Linked DNA regions of Homo sapiens. The protein of the gene in region 1 interacts with the protein of each later gene in a pairwise test. Each region holds a gene or a part of one and is shown on either strand. Other genes may lie near its edges.

Region 1 (7,336 bases):
CCTGAGTGCCCTGGTCAGTAGGTGCAATGAACACAATGAAAGGCGAAAGTTCTGCTGTCCGAACAATTTTCAGGGTCTAGAAAAAAAAAAGAAGGGCGGCGGGGAGGGGGGGGAAGGAAGAAAAGGAAAGTGAAAAAAAAAAACCTACATAGCTGTCATAATGGATTCCTTCTAATAAGCAGCTTTGAGCTTTACCCCAATACAACTTTCCATCATTCCCAGTACTACTGTTCTTGTTCCAGGCTGACCCCATTAAAAGGCTGAAGCAATCCTGAGCCCCCAGAAGATTCCCAAGGAGCACTGTCTTCGCCATCCCTTGTGTGGCTGAGCCCATCTGTCCCTGCCCTTCCATGCCTACCCACCTGGGGCTCAATGTCAAGGATGGCAATCTTGTTCTGCTTATGGATCTGGTGCACTGTTTCAAATTTGGTGCCAAACATGTTGCCTTGGTAGCTGCCAAACTCCAAGAACTCATTGGCAGAGATGTTCCTCGTCATCTCCTCCGTTGAGATAAAGTGGTACTCCTTCCCATCTTCCTCACTCTTCCTTGGCGGCCGTGTTGTATCTGTGTACAAGAACCCAAATCCCCGACAAACTCCAGGTCCTCACCCTTTCATGAGGGCTTGGACCATGGTGTCTGTATGGAAACCCTAGCTGCCTTTGGTGCATTGACTTTAATACAGGGGTTCCTCCCGTGGGCTCCTGAAGAGCTGATGCTAGAAAGTGATGCACACCAGGAAATCCCTCCATCTGCCCAGGACACATTTAATTTTTAAGGGGCAAAGCCTAACATAGAAAATTCCTATTATCATTTTCCCTAAATGAAGTTACATCTCTCAAACTACCAAATCTAGGAATATTGAAACTTAGAAATGAAGATAGCGGAAAATATTTTAAAAACAGATCTACAGACTATGGTCAGGATTTCTTGGAAATATATTTAAGGTTTCCTTTTCATGACTTGGAAAGAAGAGTACTTTGGTTTAGTTTCAGCTCATGTTGTTAAAAGTTGGACTATTTTCTATTACTCATATAAATTGTCTAATCAGTAAAATATGCTCCAGATATTGTAGCTTGAAACACAATCCTCCCAACCTCCCCTCTTTCCATCTTCCATTGACTGTCTCCTTTGCCTTCCGGATCACACTTGTCTCTCAACTGGCCCCTTCCCCTCAATCTACAACCACATGTGATTCTCTTGAAGGAGGAGCCTGTACTGGTTATTTCTGCTTCCCCACTCACTCCTGGGGCCATCTCTTTCTGCTCCTAATGTGACACTGGAATAACTCTTATGTCCCTCCAGCAACGAGACAACTCTCAATGATCCATGTGTAAAAAAGCAAAATGAAGAAAGAATTAAAAAATAGTAATATGAGGTTTAGAATCTGGTTTTCTATTTTGCTTAGCAGTACAGTAATTCCTCACTTAATATTATTATCAGTAGGTTCTTAGAAAATGTGACTTTAAGTGAAATCACATGCAGCTGGTCGTTGACTAACATGGTTTAGTTCAACTTCATTTCATTGTATTGTTGATGAGTAAAAAAACTGGTTCTTGTTATATGTCATTTCACTTAAAGTCACAGTCTTCGAAGAGCCTATTGACAATATTAAGTGAGGAATCACCGTATTTCTTTCTGGGAACATACACAACTATACCATGCAGCATCACTTCTGGGAATGGAAGAGTTATCAAATTCTCCACCTGATCACTGGCGCTACTCTTCTCCATATCTAGGACTGCTGTTGAGATCGTTTGGGCCTTTCCTAGGCACTGCTTTGATTTAGAAGACATTCCATGAAAATGAGAGGCAGCCTGAACATCAAGAGTGGGATAGTTCTCAAAGAGAATTAGGCAAATTGCAGAGGAACATGAGAAAATGTTTAAAAAGTAAAATGACAAAGTTATATGTATAAACTTTAATACTTAGTAATTTTTAAGGCAGTATCAAAATGTTTACTATAGCTTCTGTTATGTAGACAAACAGCACGAATAACAATAAGAAAACAGTTATTCTGTTAGGTGGAGGAATTGTGGGCACAAATTTTTATCTTTCCATATTTTGTTTAGTTTTAATAATCATTTAAAATAAAATAATTTAAAAAATAATAAAATAACACTATGGTATTTCAGATGGCGAGTGGTACCAGCCTGTCACCTCCCCTCCAAGGTGCCTAAGAGCTACTTACATGGGACAGGGTACACAAACTTCTCCGGATTCTGGCTGAGCAGGGCATTCTTAATGTGGCTGCGACCCACCCCACTGGCTCCTGTGTAGAGAGAGAAGAACATCTTTTGGAAAGGGGGGAGAGGAGCGAGGATAAGATACGGATTTTCCTCTCTCGGCACTCAAAACTGCCAACAGGTGAACATGAGTTGGGGTTGCATCTGGGCTGGGGTCAACTCTAAAGACAGGAAGGTGAGCAGTCCGCCAGAGGCAAAGCCTACATACCTGGGTTTGAAGCAAGGACTTACTCTGTTTCAGGTCAGAGTCACTGCTTGGGGGAAGGGAGATTTACAAAGCGTATCACTGCCAGCAGACAGCATGAAACCTAACCAAAAATAATTCGTTGCTAAATAGTAGAGAAACTTGTAAGGTTTAGTTTCATTTGTGAGGTGGACCCAGGTGGGGTGCACGTGAGGATTCAGAAAATTCCTTACACCTGCTCTATATGGAGAACCCAAGAGACCTCAGTTCTTTTCTTCCTCACTGCCTTTTTTGGGGGTGGGCACGTGATGCAGGCAGGAAAACAAAGACAGAAATGTGCAAATGGGGCAATGAGAAGATACCGATCAGCACCAGGGTCTTCCTCTTGAATGCAGGGAGCCGAACGACTTCCTCGTAGGAAACAACATCCAACTGATCAAAAACTAGAGACAAAGAAAACCAAGCAGTGTTCATTTCCAGAGCTAGGGAGAACAGTGGTCCACACTCTGAAATGGGAAACAGCCTCGCGACATCTCAACAAGCAGGGAGGAAGTGACTAGAGATGAGACGAGGGAGGTTGGTGTGGAGGAAGGACTTTGGACTGTATTTTTAGTGTGGTGAGGGAATTTTGAGCAAGGGAGTTTATCTAACTTTTGCACCCTCTCTTCCTCCTTGCCCTATCTCTCTGAGCCAACTTTTCTTGTCTCCTGTCCTCATCTCTTCTCCATAGTTTCAGTATCAGATGTTCCCTTGGCACTTAGAGCTGAAGAATGCCAATGCTATCTCGGTTCTGCCTGAATGTCCCTTATCTTAGAAGATGGTGGTGCTATTGACCCAGCTGCTCAAGATAGAGACCTGGTGTCATCCTGACTCTCCACCCCCTTACCTGCCTACAACCCAAGACTGCCACGATCATTCCCTGGCTGGTGGTGTGCACGTGACGTCTCAGAAAAGAGAAATGCAGATGGAAAGCTGACCGTGCGAATTCTCTGCTCAAAACCCTTCACCAGCTCCACAGTCTATAGTGCAAAATTTAAAACGCTAGGGAGGGTGCACGAAGCTCCCTATGACCTGGCCCTGGCCTCTCCCTCTGGCCTGTGTTCTTGCCTCACTTCCCCTCTCCCACCACATCTACTTCTGTGTGAGGGGTGGGGTGATGAGCAGGTGTGGGCTCACCACTAGTCCTCCTTTACATCCACTGGCCTGACTGCAGCAAGCTTGTGAAGATGGATTCAATAAAAAGAAACCAGAAGAAATGACATGCTTTCTGTAGAATGCGCCTTCTGCTGCGCACTGCACCACCTCCCCTTTTCTGCTGGTTACAGAGACTGGGAAACACGTGAATGCTGCCAGGAACCTGGGGCAAGAAGGCTCAGAAAGCTTACTCGAGCTGTGCTTGGCCAGATATTTGTCTTTGTACTTCTTCTTCTTCCCAAAGGGACTGCAGCTCGGGGCTTCGCTAGGAGCTGACTGAGCCATACTTGCCACTCGCCTGGTAGGAAAAGACAATCAAGGGGTCAGCTTTCCTCCCCCTCCCCTCATACCCCCCCCAGCCACTCAGTCTCTAATGGCACCCCCTTCACTCTCTGAGTGTCCATTACAGTGGGAGATAATGTGTGCAAAGCACCCCATACACTGTTTGGTGCATCTTGCACTGTGCCCTGCCCTCAGTCAGGGACCTGGCTCCTTGAGTCTGTGTCATCTAGTACCTGTCAGCACATTCTGGACACAACCCACAAACAACTCTCTTTCTTTGGTCTAGACCATAAAGGTCTCAAACCTTTATGACCCTACCTCACTCTAAGAAATACACTGTACATTGCAAGCCATTATTGCACATACATCTATAAACAAAACACATACACACACCCCACATATATATCTAAAACAACTGCTTCACAAAACAATAACTTGTATTACTACATGTAATATATTCTAATATTTCTATTCAGTGTCAACCCCACAATGGTTGTAATCTTTACACTGGGGTAAGTTTGCACAGGCAGAGGGAGGCTCAGTGTTGGATGTCTTATCAGTTGGAACTGTTTTGTGAATTTTTCTGCCATTCCTATGATGTAACCAGGACTAAGTGAGCAATCTGACTCGGGGACAGGAATTATTTCTTCCATGTACCAGGAATGTGCCTAAAGGACACATACTTAAATGCGACTGTTTTCTGCAGGACTCCAAGGAAATCCCAGAAACAGCATGGCTGGTAGAAGCGCACTAGCTTGGGAAACAGGAGACCAGGGAGGGCTCAGTCCCAGCACTGTCACGTGCTTGGTAACTATGGGGAAAACGTTTAAGGAAGCAAGAGGCCCACATAAGAATGAAGAGCTATTTGGGCTCCCTTGCCTGTGGTTGCCTCTCAGTCCAGCTTATCAACGCATGGTTAACCCTCCCCCACCCATTATGCCAGGAAATCTAGGAGGTCTCCTTGGTTGAGAAACAGAAACTACAAACAAAATGACAGATTTTCTGAAGCTAAGTTATTTGTGGCAGGCACATGGCCCTTCCACCTGCACAAAAATGGCTCACCATTCCTGCAGCTCAGGGGAAGGGATCAATCCTGCTGACTCCTTGGAGGAGCCTTCCACCCGTCCCTGCCACCAATTGCTGTCATCCTTGTTGATAATCTGGATAATGTCCCCAGTAGCAAACTTCAGTCCCGCCTCCTTGCAAGGGATCAGATTGTCCTTTTTGGGATCATAGTCAAACTGCGCTCTCATGAACATCTAAAAAGAAGGTAAAAGGAACTGCAGGCGGCAGCTTCAAAAGAAACACCAGCATCAGAGCATGTCCTGCTGTAGACAAATGGGGTCAGGATGGAATGAACAACAGGGAGGTAAGAATGGTGGGGGAGCACCCAAGAAAGAGAAATTGAAACGCTGAAGTGATTGTGTTTGCGGAGGGGTCAGAATGAATCCCTTTAACAAGAAGGCATGAGAAGCCAGGCGCAGTGGCTCACGCCTGTAATCCCAGCACTTTGGGAGGCCGAGGCGGGTGGAACACATGAGGCTAGGAGTTGGAGACCAGCCTGGCTAACATGGTGAAACTCCGTCTCTACTAAAAATACAAAAATTAGCTGGGTGTGGTGGCGTGCACCTGTAGTCCCAGCTACTCGGGAGGCTGAGGCGGGAGAATCGCTTGAACCCGGGAGGTGGAGCTTGCAGTGAGCCGAGATTGTGCCACTGCACTCCAGCCTGGGCGACAGAGTGAGACTCCGTCTCAAAAAAAAAAAAAAAAAAAAAAAAAAAGAAGGCATGAGATATCTTTCCACGTCAACGTGTCCACAGTTACTGCTGGATCTGGGTCGTCTGTCTCAGTACAGGGCAGCTACTCTTTGAACAACTGTTTTCACAATTGAAAATATGGACACTCATATCTATCAAAGAACTTGAATTTATTATTGAAAATTCTCCTCTCCTGCTCCCAAACACACACACACACACACACACACACACACACACACACACACACACCTACCTCATTACTTCATTGACAAATTTTCCAAGCATCATTTGAAGAAAGAAGGCTAATCTCATACGAAAACAGATTATAGAAAATGATGGCACTTCCCAACTCATTATAAGCATGATACCCAAATCTGACAAGAATCTTATAATTTCTCTCTGCAACAGAGATGTAAAAACCCCAAACAAAATATCAGCAAGTCAAATTTAGTTATGTATAAAAAGTATAATAAATCACAACCAAACAGGATCTAGTTCAGCAATATAAGAAGGTTTACTACCTGAAGGGCAATAAATTCACCACGTTAACATAAAAATGGAAAAAGATCATATGATCCCCTCAATAGATGCAGAAAAAGCCTGTGATAACATTCAAAACCCATTCAAGATTAAAATTCTTAGCAAACTTGGAATAGAAGGGAGGTTCTTTACTGTGAGAAAGAATACCTACAGAAACCCTACATCCAACGTCATACTTCTCAGTGAAAGATTAAAAGCTTTCCCTGCCTTTTTCAAAGGACATGGGTCTTGCTATGTTACCCAGGTTGGTCTCGAACTCCTGGGCTCAAGCAATCCACCCGCCTCGGCCTCCCAAAGTGCTAGGATTACAGGCGCATGCCACCACACCTGGCCAGCTTTCCCTTTAAGATGGAAAAATAAACAAAGATGTCTGCTATCATCACTTCCACTGGGATACTGTGAAGATGCCTCTTTTATCCAAACTGATATGTAGGTTTGACACAGGGATAAACAAACAGTCCAAAAGAAAAGAATAAAAAGTTCCAAAATAGACCTGTAAATATTACCATGACAAAAGTGACAGTGTACAGTAAATGATACTGGTTCAATTGGTATCCATATGGAAAAACTGGAATCTTGACCTCTTACCTTACAATGTATATAACAATCAATCCCAGATGGGTTGTGGATCCAAATGTGAAAAATCAAACAAGTAAGCATTTAGAAGAAAACACAGGAGAATATCTTGTTGACCTTGTGGTAAGTAAAAACTTTTAAAACAAGACATAAAAAGTGCTAATCAGAAAAAAGTGGTAGATTGGATTTCATTAAAATTAAGAGTTTCTAGTCATTAACAGGAACCATGAAGAAAATAAGCCACAGAAGAAGAGAACATACTTGGGATGCATATGACAAAGGACTCTTATCCAGAATATATGAGGAACTGCTACAAATCAGTAAGAAAAGCCTTGAATTGGTATCTTACAAAAGAGGATATCCAAGTGGAAAAAAACATATAAAAAGGAGTTTACCCTCATTAGTCATTAGAGAATTTTTAGAATCACAATGTGATACCACCATCAGGATGGCCAAAGGGTGAAAAAAAACCCAACAAATCAGACAATGCTAAGTATTGGTGAGAATACAGAACAACCAGAACTGTCATACTGTGCAGTTGGGGATGTAACATGGTTCA
Region 2 (7,746 bases), on another chromosome or scaffold:
CATGGTGAAACCCCATCTCTAATAAAAATACCAAAAATTAGCTGGGTATAGTGGTAGGTGCCTGTAATCCCAGCTACTCAGGAGGCTGAGACAGGAGAATTGCTTGAACCTGGGAGGTGGAGGTTGAGGTGAGCCAAGATCGTGCCATTCCACTCTAGCCTGGGCAACAAGAACAAAACTCCATCTCAAAAAAAAAAAAAAAATGGAGAAATAGGCTAGATCTTTTACAACCAAAACACTTTCCCTGTCCCATTTTAGGAAAGCAAATTGTCTGAGTGTGTTGACTGGAACGGCCAGATTTGGGCTTTGTTGGACTGCTTTTTTGTTGTTGTTTTTTCGACAGGGTCTCACTCTGTTACCCAGGCTAGAGTACAGTGGTACAATCACAGCTAACTGCAGCCTTGACCTCCTGGGTTCAAGAGATCCTCTTACTTCAGCCTCCTGAGTAGGGACTACAGGCACGTGGCTAATTTTTTGTGTTTTTTGTTTTTTTGTAGAGACAGGGTTTTGCCACATTGCCCAGGCTCATCTCAAATTCCTGCACTCAAGTGACCTGCCTGCCTTGGCCTCCCAAAGTGCTGAGATTACAGGTGTGAGCCACCATACCTGGCCTGTAGTGCTTTCAAAAAAGAAATGTATAAATTTAGTCCTTGTACCTGTGTAAGGGTGGCTTGGAATTTTGGAGCTCAGATGGCTCTGTTGAGTATGTGAGATGACTAACTTGAGACTTTTGCATGCAGCCACCTCATGCCTGAGTCAGAAGCGTGTCCCTTAGGTGTGCACTAGTGTTAGCTGACTAGGTAACCATGACAGAGTTTATCAATTCATTCGACAAACAGAATACCAAGCTAGGCCATGTGTCATGTGTTCCCATACCTGCACTATGTAAGTTTACTAATTACATTCCAGTGTTGTATAATTGCCCATATTCCCTACTCAACTGTAAGGACCAGGAGACCAATGACCATGTCTATCTTGCTCACACTGTATTGCCAGTATCTAGTACAGTGCTGAACACAAGGTAGATATGCAATGAATATTCTACTGAAAGAAATGAATGAGGCTGTATGCAAGATACTGTGCTAAGCAGGGAAATGGAGCAGATTGGAAGATAATAAAACTGGAACTTAGGGTCCGTGGAGAGACAACATGATGAACAGATGGAGCCAAATTTTGCAAGGGCAGACGCTTATGCAAACTGGGAAGATCAATTTGAGAAAAATAATATAAAATTTTAATACAGGCTGGGTGTGGTGGCTCATGCCTGTAATCCCAGCACTTTGCTGAGGCCGAAGTGGGTGGATCACTTGAGGTCAGGAGTTTGAGACCAGACTGGCCAACATGGTGAAATCTCGTCTCTACTAAAAATACAAAAATTAGCCAGGCATCGTGGTGCGCACCTGTAGTCCCAGCTACTTGGGAAGCTGAGTCACGAGAATCGCTTGAACCCAGAAGGAGGAGGTTGCAGAGAGCCGAGATCATACCACTGCACTTCAGCCTGGGCGATAGAGTGAGATTCTGTCTCAAAATAAATAATACAAAATTAAGCACGTGGTCCTGGAAGAGGTTCATGCAATTGAAGGGACTTGAAATTTAAGCTTCAGTAACTTCACAGTAACTCCATCTCTGGGGAGAAGTGGACAAATGTACTAACTACTGTGGAATCTCTAAAGATTGGTCAGAGATTTCGGCAAGGGAAAATCAAGGTTTCATAGAAGAGATCAACTGTGAGCTTCATCTTACAGAAACAAAGGAAACAAATTGCAGGTGGAAGAAACGTGCTAGATCACACAAGTGAGAAAAAGGCAGAGCGTATCTGTGGAATAGTGAGAAATACTATATGGTTAGTGTGGGGTTGGGTGAGGAAAGACTTAGGATAGTGGTTCTCCAGACGTGATCACAGGCCAGCAGCATGGACTTCGAAAGGAAATTTGTTAGAACTGCAGCTACTCAGGCCCTAGTCCAGATTTACCCAGTTCTCTTCATCCCATATCCCAAAATAAATTGTAGACAAACGAAAAAGTTAAAGCAAAAAATGCAACCAGATCCTGCATAGAAGAAAAGATTATCTCAGCAAAAGGCCAAAAATAGAACTTGCAAAGGAAAAGATTAATAGACTTGCTTTCACTACAATTTAAAATGTTTGCACCACTAACAAAATTAAAAAACAACAAACTGCAATTACGCCTGTAATCCCAGTACTTTCGGAGGCCGAGGTGGGCGGATCACCTGAGGTCAGGAGTTTGAGACCAGCCTGGCCAACATGGTGAAACCCGTCTCTACTAAAAATACAAAAATTAGCCCCGTGTGGTGCCACGCGCCTGTAATCCCAGCTACTCGGAGGATGAGGCAGGAGAATCGCTTGAATCTGGGAGGCGGAGGTTGCAGTGAGCCAAGATCACGTCATTGCACTCCAGCCTGGGCGAAAGAGCAAGACTCTGTCTCAAAAACACACAAACAAACAAACAAAAAACATAAAGAATGCTCGTGCTATACTAATTGGAAAAAAGAACCTGTTAGAAAAAAACACAGCCAATATTCTAATTTTGAAAACAAATTTTTATGTCAGTATAGGTATAAAAATAACGGAAAGATAGAAAGCAAAATGTTACCATTGATGAGCTCAGGGTTGTGAGATTATGGTAAATTTACTTTTGCTCTTTGTACTTTTCTGTTGTCTCCATTCTGTACTAAAAACGTAACTATTTTCTAATCAGGAAGAAATTAAGTGGCCGGGCGCGGTGACTCGCGCCTGTAATCCCAGCACTTTAGGAGGCCAAGGCGGGCGGATCACTTGATGCCAGAAGCTCAAGACCAGCCTGGCCAATATGGTGAAATCTCAGCACCACTAAATATACAAAAATTAGCCAGGTGTGGCAGCTCGCGCCTGTAATCTCAGCTAATCTGAAGGGTGGGGCACGAGAATTGCTTGAATTTAGGAGGTGGAGATTGCAGTGAGCCGATATCCCATCTCTGTACTGGAGCCTGGGCGACAGAGTGAGACCGTGAGAAAGAAAAAAGAAAAAAAAGAAAAGGAAGGAAGGAAAGGAAGGAGAAATTAAGCTATTCTACAAGTGTGTGAAAAAGTTGGAAGAACGATGTTTTAATAGCCCTGAATCAAATTTATAATAGTATTTAACAAACTCTACAATTTAGCACTCTTGAGATTTTAGGGTTTTATCCCAGCTATCACCCTCCCTTGGAGCGGGAGATGAGGAAAAGAGGGACCCAAAAATGAAACTGAAAAACACTCCAGCTAATCAAGAACTTGAAATTGCTTGCAATTTGTGACTATGTTAAACAACATCTAAACAAAGTCAAGCTCCTCTAAGTGCAAACAATACGTGGGATGCTGGGGAGAGTGTGCGTTTACTTTCACTACAAAATGTTTTGGAGTAAAACTTCATTTTGAAATATAAAGATTTTGTTGGACACAAGGCTATGTGGTAAGGCAAAATGGTAAGATGGTGGCATGACACCCCCTTGTGGTTTCCACCGATTCCCGGTTCTGTGCTAGATACTAACTATTCTAGGATTTAAAAATGTCTCTACATTTCTTCGAACTTTAATTCGGGCCATACTAGCATTCGTGAGCATTTATTTGAGCTGAGTACGCACATAAAACTTAGGAGGTCATAAAAACTGAGCCTCACAAACAAGTAGTGTCTCTTTCAAATATAGCTTTATCTCCTGGGGGATGGTGAAGGGATCAGAGTAAAGTCTGTGATTATTACTTTCCAGCGATTGATTGGTTGATTGGCATGTGGTTGTCAGAAAAAGCAGTGGACGTGAACAAAGAGACATCATTGCAGCCCTAACTATCCGAGTGACCTTGGGTACCTGATAATCCACATGGCTCTCAGTCATCCTCTTAACCGTTTGAACCTCAGGGGTTTAGGCTACCAAAATGAATTAAGACCCAGTCTTTAGCTTCTCACACATTTACTTTTCCATTTTGTAAAATGTGACTAAAAACCTCAACTCATTGTCAAAAGGACTGAATTAAACATATCACCACACTTGCACAGAGATCATTTATGGAACCATGTTCACAAATTTATTTATGCTCGTGTAATTTAATCATTTCTACAGCTGCTCAAAGAAAGTCAAAGTCGAGAAAGGACTTAAATCGTCGAGTCCAGTCCCCCTTAACTCCTCATTCATTCCACTATTTCTCGAGCCAAGGAATCGGGTGAAACTCAACAACGACTCGCAGTCTTCAGGTTTCACCCTCTTGCCCTGAGGGCAGCATCCTAGCCCTAGGTGGTTCTCTGGTGTGGCCTCAGTAAAACCGTGACGAGGTCCTCGGCCTCTCTGTCCCCAACAGGCGGCTGGCACACTTCGGGGTCTGAGATGCCATCTGCCTTGCCTAACCTGGGCAAGACCACTCGCGTCCTTTCCCTTGAGGAGCAGCGTGGGAAAGGTGCCGCTGCGCGCCACGTTTCTCCCAGTTCCCCAGGGCTTGAAGGGGCGGTGGAGGCGGGCGGGATAAATTCGCTGGCCGCCTGGCGTGGAGTAATCCTAGAGGGTGGGATCGCCCTCGGGGCTCGGGAGGGGCTCTTCCCCGCCCAGAAGGAGACTGCGGCGGCGCAAGGCCTCCGGCAGGGGGCGCGGGCCGCTGGGCCTCCCCCGGGGCTGCGGGCCGGTGGTCCCTCCCAGGCCGCGTGTGCGGTGCGTTCGCGCAGCCCGCTCCCTGCCCCCACCTCACCTCGTCACCTCCCCGCCCTCTCGGCGGGCCCCTGAGGTGCGCGGCGCAGGCGCGGAGCGTGGCGGCCAGGGCAGTGCGGCCGCGGAGCCTAGGCCAGGGGCCTGGCGCTCAGGGCGTGGGGCGCGCGGGGAGGGAGAGGGGTCGGCCCAGCACAGCGTCCGGGAGCGCTAGGGCCGGAGCAGCGCTGCCCGCCGCCGTGCGTCCGCGGGAAGGACCGCGCGGCCCCTCCGCCTGCGCTCTCGGCCGCCGCCGCCTCTGCGTGGGCCGGCCGGGAGGGCCTCGGGGGACTGACTGGTGAGTGTGAGGGAGGAGCGGGTGGGTCGGGCGCTGGACTGCTCCAGGGGACGCGGGCGTGCGGGCGCATCTTCTAACGGGAGAGGGCGGGAGAGACCGGAGCTCCCTTTATACGGAAACTCTGCCTTCGTTATATGGCGGGATGGCGTTCCCCTCCCCCATCCCGAAGGCAGTTCCACCCCCTGCGCAGGACGCCTTGGCCGGGCTCCCCTCGGCCCCCTGCTGCCGTTGTCTTTACGGAACCTTTGGTGTCGGGGCTTGGAAGTCTCCTTGGCGCCGGCTTCTGGGCCCGGGCGAAGCTGGTGCGTGGCGCCGGGGTGGAGGCGGCTAAGTCCCAGGGACTTCTGCCCTGCGCCTCCGACGGGCATTTGTCTGGCTGCGTCCGGGCTCGGGACGATCCTGGGTCCTCGCTGGCGCTGCGGCCCTGCCCGGCGGCTTCGTGACCTCCGGCGGCGAATCCCCGGGCTCGCGCAACGAGTTGTAGCCGCGGAGAGCAGGCGTCGATGCTGGCGCCCAAAGCCTCCAGCCTGAGAGTCGCCTCACTCGTGTGACGGTGCTTAGAAACCCCCTTTTTTGGTTTTGTCTTTAAGTACTGTCTAGGGAAACGAATCATTTGAAGCAGTTTATGCCTTTTTTGTTTTTTTCGAAGAGAAAGATTTATGCCGGACTGAAAAATAGCGAATCAAGTATTTAGTGACCGTGTGATATTGCAGTAAAGACTGCCTCCACGTTGGACATGTAGTGGATTCTAGTTCAGGCTCTCCTGCAACATGTTTTTGTTTCAATTCTTTTACAATTTAAAGCATATGCTTATTTTAATGAGAACGAAAAAGAAAGCTTAACTCTTTTTAAACTCGTTAAAAATGGAGTTATTTACTGTAAAGACGTCTTACAGCAATTAGGAAGAATATACATTGCATGAAAGGCCTTTTGAAACGTTTATCTATTTGATGATTGCTGACTGCCTGTTGTATGTATTCTATTTTGTGCATAGACTTTCTTGTTGGTTGAAAAAAATGACAGGTGGAAAGATGTTGGTTTCTAGGTGATATAAAAAATTTTTAAACATTTTTCTGATTTTTCTGCAGTGACACGTGTTACATATGTCGTTTGTATTTCAGAGGGAGGGGGGACTGTGATAGGTTGCTTGTGATTCAGAATCTTCCTGCTAAGAAGACTAGTGAGCAAATGTTTATGACATCCTTGAGTAGAAAGCTAAGTTTTTTCAAGGCTGTTATGCACACAAAAGGCACATAAAAATGATTGCTAAAATGAAGGATGGTTAGCATTTTTGGTCTTGAGTAGGCATCACCATTGTGCTGAAAGGAAGTCCGATAGACATTTGGTTATCGTTCGGCCCTAAGTAGGAGTCAGACCCTTCCTGATCCGTGTGCCTCCTCCTCTCACCTAACAGCCTGAATCCAGGCCAGCTTGCAACGTTGATTTTAATACCACGCTTGGTTTCCTTTTCTTACTTTTATTCTTCAAGTTGCAAAGAACTTGAGATGCATTCTGAAATAACAAGAGACTACTTAACATGTTCGGCTGAGTGTTTTCAGTGTTCTCCCTGATACTTTTAGAGTATTTAGAACATGAAGTGTGAAGCTTTGGGCTATATGAATCGTAATAGCTCTTCTCTTTTTGATTTTTGAATGCAGTGAATTGAGATGGTTACTCAAGGAATGATTGTTTACATTGTTAGGTGAGGCGTTTGATTTTATTCTTTTTTCTTTCTTTCTTTCTTTTTTAGACAGAGTTTCACTCCTGTTACCCAGGCTGGAGGACAATGATGTGATCTCGGGTCACCACAACCTCCGCCTCCCGGATTCAAGCGATTCTCATGCCTCAGCCTCCCGAGTAGCTCAGATTACAGGCATGTGCCACCACGCCCGGCTAATTTTGTATTTTCAGTCGAGACGGGGTTTCCCCATGTTGGTCAGGCTAGTCTTGAATTCCCGACCTCAGGTGATCTGTTCGCCTCGGCCTCCCAAAGTGCTGGGATTACAGGCGTGAACCACTGCACCCGGCGAGGTGAGGTATTTTATATATTGGTATCATTTCTGTACATTTCATGGTTGTCTGTTTCTTTAGGCTATTCTGTTCCCCTTCTCCCAACTGGTAGCTAAGAACTGGAAGCAAGATGTGCATGCATTTTCATCTCTGGTTCTCCCACTTATTAGTTGACTTAACTTTCACTAAGGCTGTTTCCACATCAGTAAAAATGTAAATGGGTTTGATAGTAACTCCTCCATGTACCGCACAGGACCATTTTGAAGATGAAATAGAATAAGGGTTAGGAAAATGCTTAATAAACTGAAAAGGCCGGGCGCGGTGGCTCACGCCTGTAATCCCAGCACCTTGGGAGGCCGAGGCGGGCAGATCACGAGGTCAGGAGATCGAGAACATCCTGGCTAACACGGTGAAACCCCGTCTGTACTAAAAATACAAAAAATTAGCCGGGCGCCTGTTGTCCCAGCTACTTGGGAGGCTGAGGCAGGAGAATGGCATGAACCCGGGAGGCGGAGCTTGCAGTGAGCCAAGATAGCGCCACTGCACTCCAGCCTGGGCGAAAGAGCGAGACTCTGTCCGAAAAAAAAGTAAAAATAAAATAAACTGAAAAAGCACTATCTCATTCCCTGCTGTATTATATCACTTCAGTGCTGATATACCCAGAACTTAGTGAAGCAGCAAAAATAGTATGTGCACCTCAGCTAGAACACCTGTCATGTGTATCACCTTGGTGT
Region 3 (7,336 bases), on another chromosome or scaffold:
AGGACTGGTTCTAGGGACCCCTGCGGATGCCAAAATCTACAGATATTCAAGTCCCTTTTATAAAATGGTTTAGTATTTGCATGTAATCCATGCACATCCTCCCATATACTTGAAATCATCGCTAGATTACTTGTAATCCCTAATACAATAAAACTGCTATACAAATAATTGTTATACTGTATTATTTTAAAATGTCTTATTCTTTATTATAGTATTTTGTTTTTCTACCATATATTTTCAATTCGCAGTTGGCTGAATCCACTAGTGTGGAACCCACAGATATGGAAGGATGACTGTATGTTTATATTTATTTTTGAGATAGGGTCTTGCTCTGTCATGCTGGCTGGGGTGCAGTGGCTCAAACATGGCTCACTGCAGCTTTGACCTTCCCGGGCTCAAGTGATCTTCCCACCTCAGGCTCCCAAGTAGCTCGGACTACAGGCATGTGCCACCATGCCGGGTTAATTTTTGGTTTTGTTTTACGTAGAGACGGGGTTTCACCATGTTGACCAGGCTGGTCTCAAACTCCTGAGGCTAAAGCAGTCTGCCTGCCTCTGCCTTCCAAAATACTGGGATTACATGTGTGAGGCACTGTGCCTGACCTGTAAATTTAAAAAGCTACTTTTTGGGCTGGGCGTGGTCGCTTACGCCTATAATTCCAGCACTTTGGGAGGCCGAAGTGGGTGGATCACCTAATGTCAGGAGTTTGAGACTAGCCTGGCCAAAATGGAGAAACCCCACCTCTAGTAAAAACACACAAAAAATTAGCTGGGCGCGGTGGTGGGTGTCTGTAGTCCCAGCTACTCGGGAGGCTGAGGCAGGAGAACTGCTTGAATCCGGGAGGCGGAGGCTGCAGTGAGCCGAGAACATGCCATTGCATTCTAGCCTAGGAGACAGAAAAACTCCGTCTCAAAAAATAAAATAAAATAAAATAAAATAATAAAATAAAAAGCTACTCTGTGTGTAATAAGGACAGAGGGTGATTATACATGCAAATTTGCTTATATTTGCAAAAATATGGAACAGGTGAACTAGGAGCCTAAGAAATGTTATCCATGGTCAGGGAGGGGACAGGGAGAGTACAGGAATCATGACCAGACTTCTTCTTTTTTTTTATTTTTATGAGACAGTCTCACTTTGTCACCCAGGTTGGAGTGCAGTGTCGTGATCTCAGCTCACTGCAACCTCCACCTACCTAGTAGCTAGGATTATAGGCGTACGCCACCACACCAGATAATTTTTATATTTTTTCTAGAGATGGGGTTTCCCCACGTTGGCCAGGCTGGTTTCGAACTCCTGGCCTCAAGGGATCCACCTACCTCGGTCTCCTAAAGTGCTGGGATTCCAGGTGTGAGCCACCACACCCAGCCTGCAAAGAAATACTAACCTTTTCTCAGCACTCCAGTTGCAATTGTGCTGTGAGAATGCTCATTCTGAAGCAATTATATGAGTGAGTGTACAGTAGAATAACATCAGTGAATAACGGGTAGAATAAGCAACTAAGAAACGAGGAGCGGAACCAAGCATACCAGCGACGAGATCTAAATATGAAATTCAAAACAGCAAAGATCTGGACTGTTCAACTGAAAGTGACGCTAATTGCTAGGAACTCTTTGCTGCTGCCCCAAGTGTGTACTTCCTAATTTTTCACAGTAAAGGCCTAACAACAATGACCACCCAGCAGCAAAAAGCACCCATGGCACCTGGATTGTGTCTCTAAATACCGCTCCCCACTAACGGCACCTGGAGTCCTGAAGGAGGGGCTGACTGCAGCTCTGGGATGGGAAGTACACAAGGTGAAGGCGGGCATCCCGCTGGGAGAAACGCTGACCCACAGTGCTAGAAGGGCAAGGAGCCAATCAGAAGGGCTCCAATGGCTAAGACAGGACAATTTTTTTTTCTTCTTTTTTTTTAAGATGGAGTCTCGCTCTGTCGCCCAGGCTGGAGTGCAGTGGTACGATCTCAGCTCACCGCAACCTCCGCCTTCCAGGTTCAAGCAATTCTCCTGCCTCAGCCTCCTGAGTAGCTGGGATTACAGGCGTGCACCACCATGCCTGGCAAATTTTTGTATTTTCTGTAGAGATGGGGTTTCACCACGTTGGCCAGGCTGGTCTTGAACTCCTGACCTCAAGTGATCTGCCCACCTCGGCCTCCCAAAGTGCTGGGATTACAGGCTGGAGCCACTGCGCCTGGCCAAGACAGGACAATTTGACTAGGAAAACGAATAATTCATGCAACTGACAAACACATAAAAGTTCACAATGATGCTGGAGAAAAAAAGAGAACCCCTTCCCTACCCCCAAACAAACCCTCAACTCTGGTCAACATTTGGAGTAAGCTCCAACTCTCTATCCTGAAAATTAGTCATCAAAAGGAACAGTTAAGCATTAAACTGCCTTTCTCGTACCATACTTCAAGGTAACAAACTAGTCCTGGAAGATGGAAAGTTCTTCACAGAAGAATTACAGCTCATCAATGTGAAACGAAAGTTAGAAAAGTGAGCCATGGTTTACTGATTGGGAAAATAGAGGTAATATCCACTACTTCAGCAGGTGGAGCCAAGGATTAAAGATAAGAAATGTCACAAATCCAGCTAGACCACATTAAGACCTCAATAAATATTTACTTTTCCTTTCTAACTCGAGTCTGGAAGAATCGCACTGGCCTCCTCCTCACCGCAGGCACTTGCATTCATTTATAACACATTCTCTGAAGGCAGACCCTGCAGGTGGCAAAAAGATTCGACGTGGAGTAAATGGAAACAGAGACCAGGGAGGAACTGAGCTGCACAGTTTTCTTTCTTTCTTTTTTTTTTTTGAGACGGAGCTTCACACTTGTTGCCCAGGCTGGAGTGCAGTGGTGCGATCTCGGCTCACTGCAAACTCTGCCTCCTGGGTTCAAGCGATTCTCCCACCTCAGCCTCCCAAGTGGCTGGGATTACAGGCGTGCACCACCACGCCTGGCTAATTTTGTATTTTTAGTAGAGACAGGATTTCACCATATTGGTCAGGCTGGTCTCGAACTCCTGACCTCAAATGATTCACACACCTTGGCCTCCCAAAGTGCTGGGATTATAGGCGTAAGCCACCACACCCAGGCAGCGCATGTTTTTTTCTTTTTTTTTTGACACGGAGTCTCCCTCTGTCACCCAGGCTGGAGTGCAGTGGCACCATCTCGGCTCACTGCAACCGCCACATCCTGGGTTCAAGCAATTCTTCTGCCTCAGCCTCCCAAGTAGCTGGGACTACAGGTGCGAGCCACCATGCCTGGCTAATTTTTGTATTTTTGGGAGAAACAGGGTGTCACCATATTGGCCAGGCTGGTCTCAAACTCCTGACCTCGTGATCCGCCCGCCTTGGCCTCCCAGAGTGCTGGGATTACAGGCGTGAGCCACTGCGCCCGGCTTTTTTTTTTTTTTTTTTTTTTTTTGGCCAGTGCATAGTTTTCAAAGTTCCAGGGCTGGCAAGGCACAGTGGCTCACATCTGTAATCCCAGCACTTTGGGAGGCCAAGGCAGATCTCTTAACGCCAGGAGTTCAGGACCAGCCTGGGCAACATAGTGAGACCCTGTCTCTCCAAAAACAGTAAAAAAACAAAAATCAAACAAAAAAAAATTAGCCAGGCATGGTGGTATTCGCCTGCAGTCCCAGTTACTCGGGAGGCTGTGGGAGGATCGCTTGAGCCCCGGATTGAGGTCAAGGCTGCAGTGAGCCATGATTGTGCCACTGCACTCCAGCCCTGGCAACAGAGCGAGGTTCTGTCTCTAAAAAATAAACATTTAAAATAAAAAATGAGTAAAAATAAAAAGTCAATGTGCTATCTGGACTATACTGTCAGGAGGTGAAAGAGTCACCTTCTCTTCCTTGACGCTACTGGCGCACACACAGCAGCTATCAGCACCTGGGATCAAGCACACCAGAGAAGGAAATACACAGGAAACCCACTTCCTCGATGGCGTGCATCGTCACCGTGAGGCATTACAGAGGACTGACTGCTGAAAGCGCTGGCTGTCAGGTGCCCAAAAGATACCACAATGTTAACATGCAGCTACAGCTCCTCAACAAAGCACCTATTCTGGAACTAGCCAAGAAAATGGCGTGTTCTTGGTGCTGTACAACTCACCAAGTCGCTGCTGACCAGGAAAGCCGAGAGGTCCACCAGAACCCAGGTGGGGATCATAAAGAAGACGGCGTGGCAGCCCAGGATGTTGAGCAGCCGGAGATGGTGGATCCGTGAATCTCGCAAGACCTGGAAAGGGAAAGCCTCTTTAGAGGGTGATTAAAACTATATGTGGCAAAAAGGGCTCCAGTGACTCAGGCCCCAAACACAGTGACTGGACATTAACCCTGACATCTGAGCTTGGACACCAAACCTGCAAGTGCATTTGTGAGGACATACACAGCACAGGCCTGAAACAAGCACCATGCTCCACGCATAAACGACTGAGAAAAGAAAACAAAAATAAAACAGTAACACTCAGTGCTGGTGAGGATGAAGTGAAGTAGGCACTCTGAAATTCCACTGGTTTGAGGCTGAATTGGTATAACCTTTCTAAAATACGACCAGACAAACCATATTAAGAGTGATTAACGTTTCATACCCTCTAACCTGAGAACTGTAAGCCTATCATAATGAAATAACTGAGACAGGAAAACATCACACACGTGATTGTTTCTACATTACAATGAAAAGTTGGAAATAAGTGGTATTTCCAATAGAGAGACTGCATTAACTGTGGTACCTGAAAAGTGTGTGATTATCACAGGAGTTAAGAGCAATTTTTTTTTTTGAGACGGGGTCTCACTCTATTCCTATTGCCTAGGCTGGTCTCGAACTCCTAGCCTCAAGTGATCCTCCTGCCTTGGCCTCCCAAAGTGCTGGGATTATAGATGTGAGCCACTGCACTAGGCTTCAACAAGTTTTAAAATCTTGTTTTAAATTGAAGTTTTTAGCTAGGCCTGGTGGCTAATGCCTGTAATCCCAGTGCTTTATGAGGCTGAGGTGTGAGGATCACTTGAGCTTCGAAGACTGAGGCTGCAGTAAGCTATGATTGTGCCACTGCACTCCAGCCTGGGCGACAGTGAGCCTTGGTCTCAATAAAAGAGCTTTTCTTTATTTTTTTCTTATTGAGCACATTAACTTTATAATAGAAAAACTTTTTTTTGTTTTTGAGATGGAGACTCACTCTTGCCCAGGTTGGAGTGCAGTGATGCAAAATCTCAGCTCACTGCAAGCCCCGCTTCCTGGGTTCAAGCAATTCTTGTGCCTCAGTGTCTGGAGTAGCTGGGATTACAGATGCGTGCCTGGCTAATTTTTATGTTTTTAGTAGAGATGGGGTTTTGCCATATTGGTCAGGCTGGTGTTGAACTCCTGGCCTCAAGTGAACCGCCCGCCTTGGCCTCCCAAAGTGCTGGGATTATAGGCATGAGCCACTGCGCCCGGCCAGAAAAACAAACTATTTAAAAAGCAAAATGACAAACAGAAAATCAGCAGAATGGCAATCAAGATTTTTCTGCTCTAATAGCAAAGAAATTTCTACTCCGCCTGTTTTCCCAATGCCACCAGTTTGCTGCCCGCACACCCCTGAAACCCCATGCATGTCCGCTGATGGTGACCAAATACCTTTTTGGAGAAAATGTTCTGAAGCGAGAAGCACAGCGTGGCGGCGAGGGCGCTGACGAGTCCCCACATGTCAAAAGACAACTCGGTGACGGTGGCCAGCAGGACACCGCTGATGATGGGGATGAGTGACAAGTATACCTGCAGGAAGAGGTCATCAAGAAGGGCTCACAGGCCAGACTAGAGCTGGGCCACATGCCACAGATGCCCAGGGAAGAGCCCCTCTCCTCCCTCAGCAAAGGGATACCACCTAACACTTTGAAAGTGGTGTTTGCTGTGCCAGTGACGCTCTGGTGGGTGGCTGGGGGCAGGTGGTTATCAGAGCGCCAGGGGCAGGGCTTATTTGTGGGTAGCCCCATCCCCATACCGTCACCCCCATTAAGAGCCTCTGCTCAGGGCCACAGCCCGGGGCTGGTCCTAACTCCACAGATCTGTTCAGCTGCCACTGACGCACCAGGGTTTGAAGCCCTGATCCTCTATAAGGCTCCCCCATTCCCTCTTTTTAAAAAATAGTTTTTTTGAGACAAAGTCTCGCTCTGTCGCCCAGGCTGGAGTGTAGTGGCACAATCGTGGCTCACTGCAACCTCTGCTTCCCGGGTTCAAGCGATTCTCCTGCCTCAGACTCCCCAGTAGCTGGGATTACAGGGATGTGCCACCACGCCCGGCCAATTTTTTTGTACTTTTAGTAGAGACAGGATTTCGCCATGTTAGCCAGGCTAGTCTTGAACGCCTGATCCACGTCATCCATCCACCTTGGCCTCCCAAAGTACTGGGATTACAGGTGTGAGCCACTGTGCCCAGCCCCCATTCCCTCTTACTTCAGGCTCTTCCAGTATGGTTACTCCTGGCTGGCACACTCCACTGATGCCTTCTCCTCCCAGTGACCTCCTGCCTCCACAAGGAGTGCTTTCTCCAACCCACCTCCACCTTGGGAGGCTCCTGTGCTGTGCTCCCAGGGCCACTGCCTGGACTTCCCCAGCAGAGAGCTCTCCACTCACTCTTTTTTTTTTTTTTTGAGACGGAGTCTCGCTCTGTCACCAGGATGGAATGCAGTGGCATGATCTCGGCTCACTGCAACCTCTGCCTCCCAGGTTCAACCGATTCTTCTGCCTCAGCTTTCTGAGTAGCTGGGACTACAGGTGCCTACCACCACGCCCAACTAATTTTTGTATTTTTAGTAAAGATGGGGTTTTGCCATGTTGGCCAGGATGGTCTCGATCTCTTGACCTCGTGATCTGCCCACCTTGGCCTCCCAAAGTGCTGGGATTACAAGCGTGGGCCACCGTGCCCAGCCTCTCCACCCACTCTGTCTGTTACATCATCCGGTCCCGTTAGTGTACCTTAGAGCAGGTCCTTGTTCACTGCTTTATCCTGGTGCCTAGCACTCAGTAGGCACTCAATAGCTGCTAGCTGAATGAACGAGTAGCAAACATAGTGACAGAGAGCCTTCTAGAAGGTCTGGCATGCAGGGCTAAACAACTCCCAACTTCCAGGATCCACCAGGATCCATTCCCGCGTGTCCAGCTCTTCTGACTCTCGGCTCAATCCTGTCCTACAAAGAACACTCTTCACTTTGGGAGGCTGAGGAGGGCAGATCACTTGAAGTCAGGAGTTTGAGACCAGCCTGGCCAACATGGTAAAACCCTGTCTGTATTGAAAATACAAAAATTAGCCAGGAGTGATGGAACGCGCCTGCAATCCCGGCTACTCGGGAGGCT

The links. The genes of interacting proteins can lie anywhere in the genome.
Region 2: the proteins of MPP1 (region 1) and ZNF639 interact in binary tests that used the Homo sapiens proteins (3 or more experiments, as listed by UniProt).
Region 3: the proteins of MPP1 (region 1) and SLC35E1 interact in binary tests that used the Homo sapiens proteins (3 or more experiments, as listed by UniProt).

What each region holds. Positions count from the first base shown.
Region 1 is NC_000023.11:154,781,238-154,788,573, forward strand, and holds part of MPP1 (55 kDa erythrocyte membrane protein), read right to left. Parts: intron 5,164-7,336; coding exon 4,967-5,163; intron 3,921-4,966; coding exon 3,814-3,920; intron 2,872-3,813; coding exon 2,791-2,871; intron 2,271-2,790; coding exon 2,190-2,270; intron 566-2,189; coding exon 363-565; intron 77-362; coding exon 2-76; intron 1-1. UniProt on the Homo sapiens protein: Essential regulator of neutrophil polarity. Regulates neutrophil polarization by regulating AKT1 phosphorylation through a mechanism that is independent of PIK3CG activity.
Region 2 is NC_000003.12:179,318,290-179,326,035, forward strand, and holds the start of ZNF639 (zinc finger protein 639), read left to right. Parts: upstream 1-4,741; 5' UTR 4,742-5,002; intron 5,003-5,056; exon of another isoform or gene 5,057-5,972; intron 5,973-6,660; exon of another isoform or gene 6,661-6,704; intron 6,705-6,752; exon of another isoform or gene 6,753-7,033; intron 7,034-7,746. UniProt on the Homo sapiens protein: Binds DNA and may function as a transcriptional repressor.
Region 3 is NC_000019.10:16,562,411-16,569,746, forward strand, and holds part of SLC35E1 (solute carrier family 35 member E1), read right to left. Parts: intron 5,760-7,336; coding exon 5,622-5,759; intron 4,248-5,621; coding exon 4,122-4,247; intron 1-4,121. UniProt on the Homo sapiens protein: Putative transporter.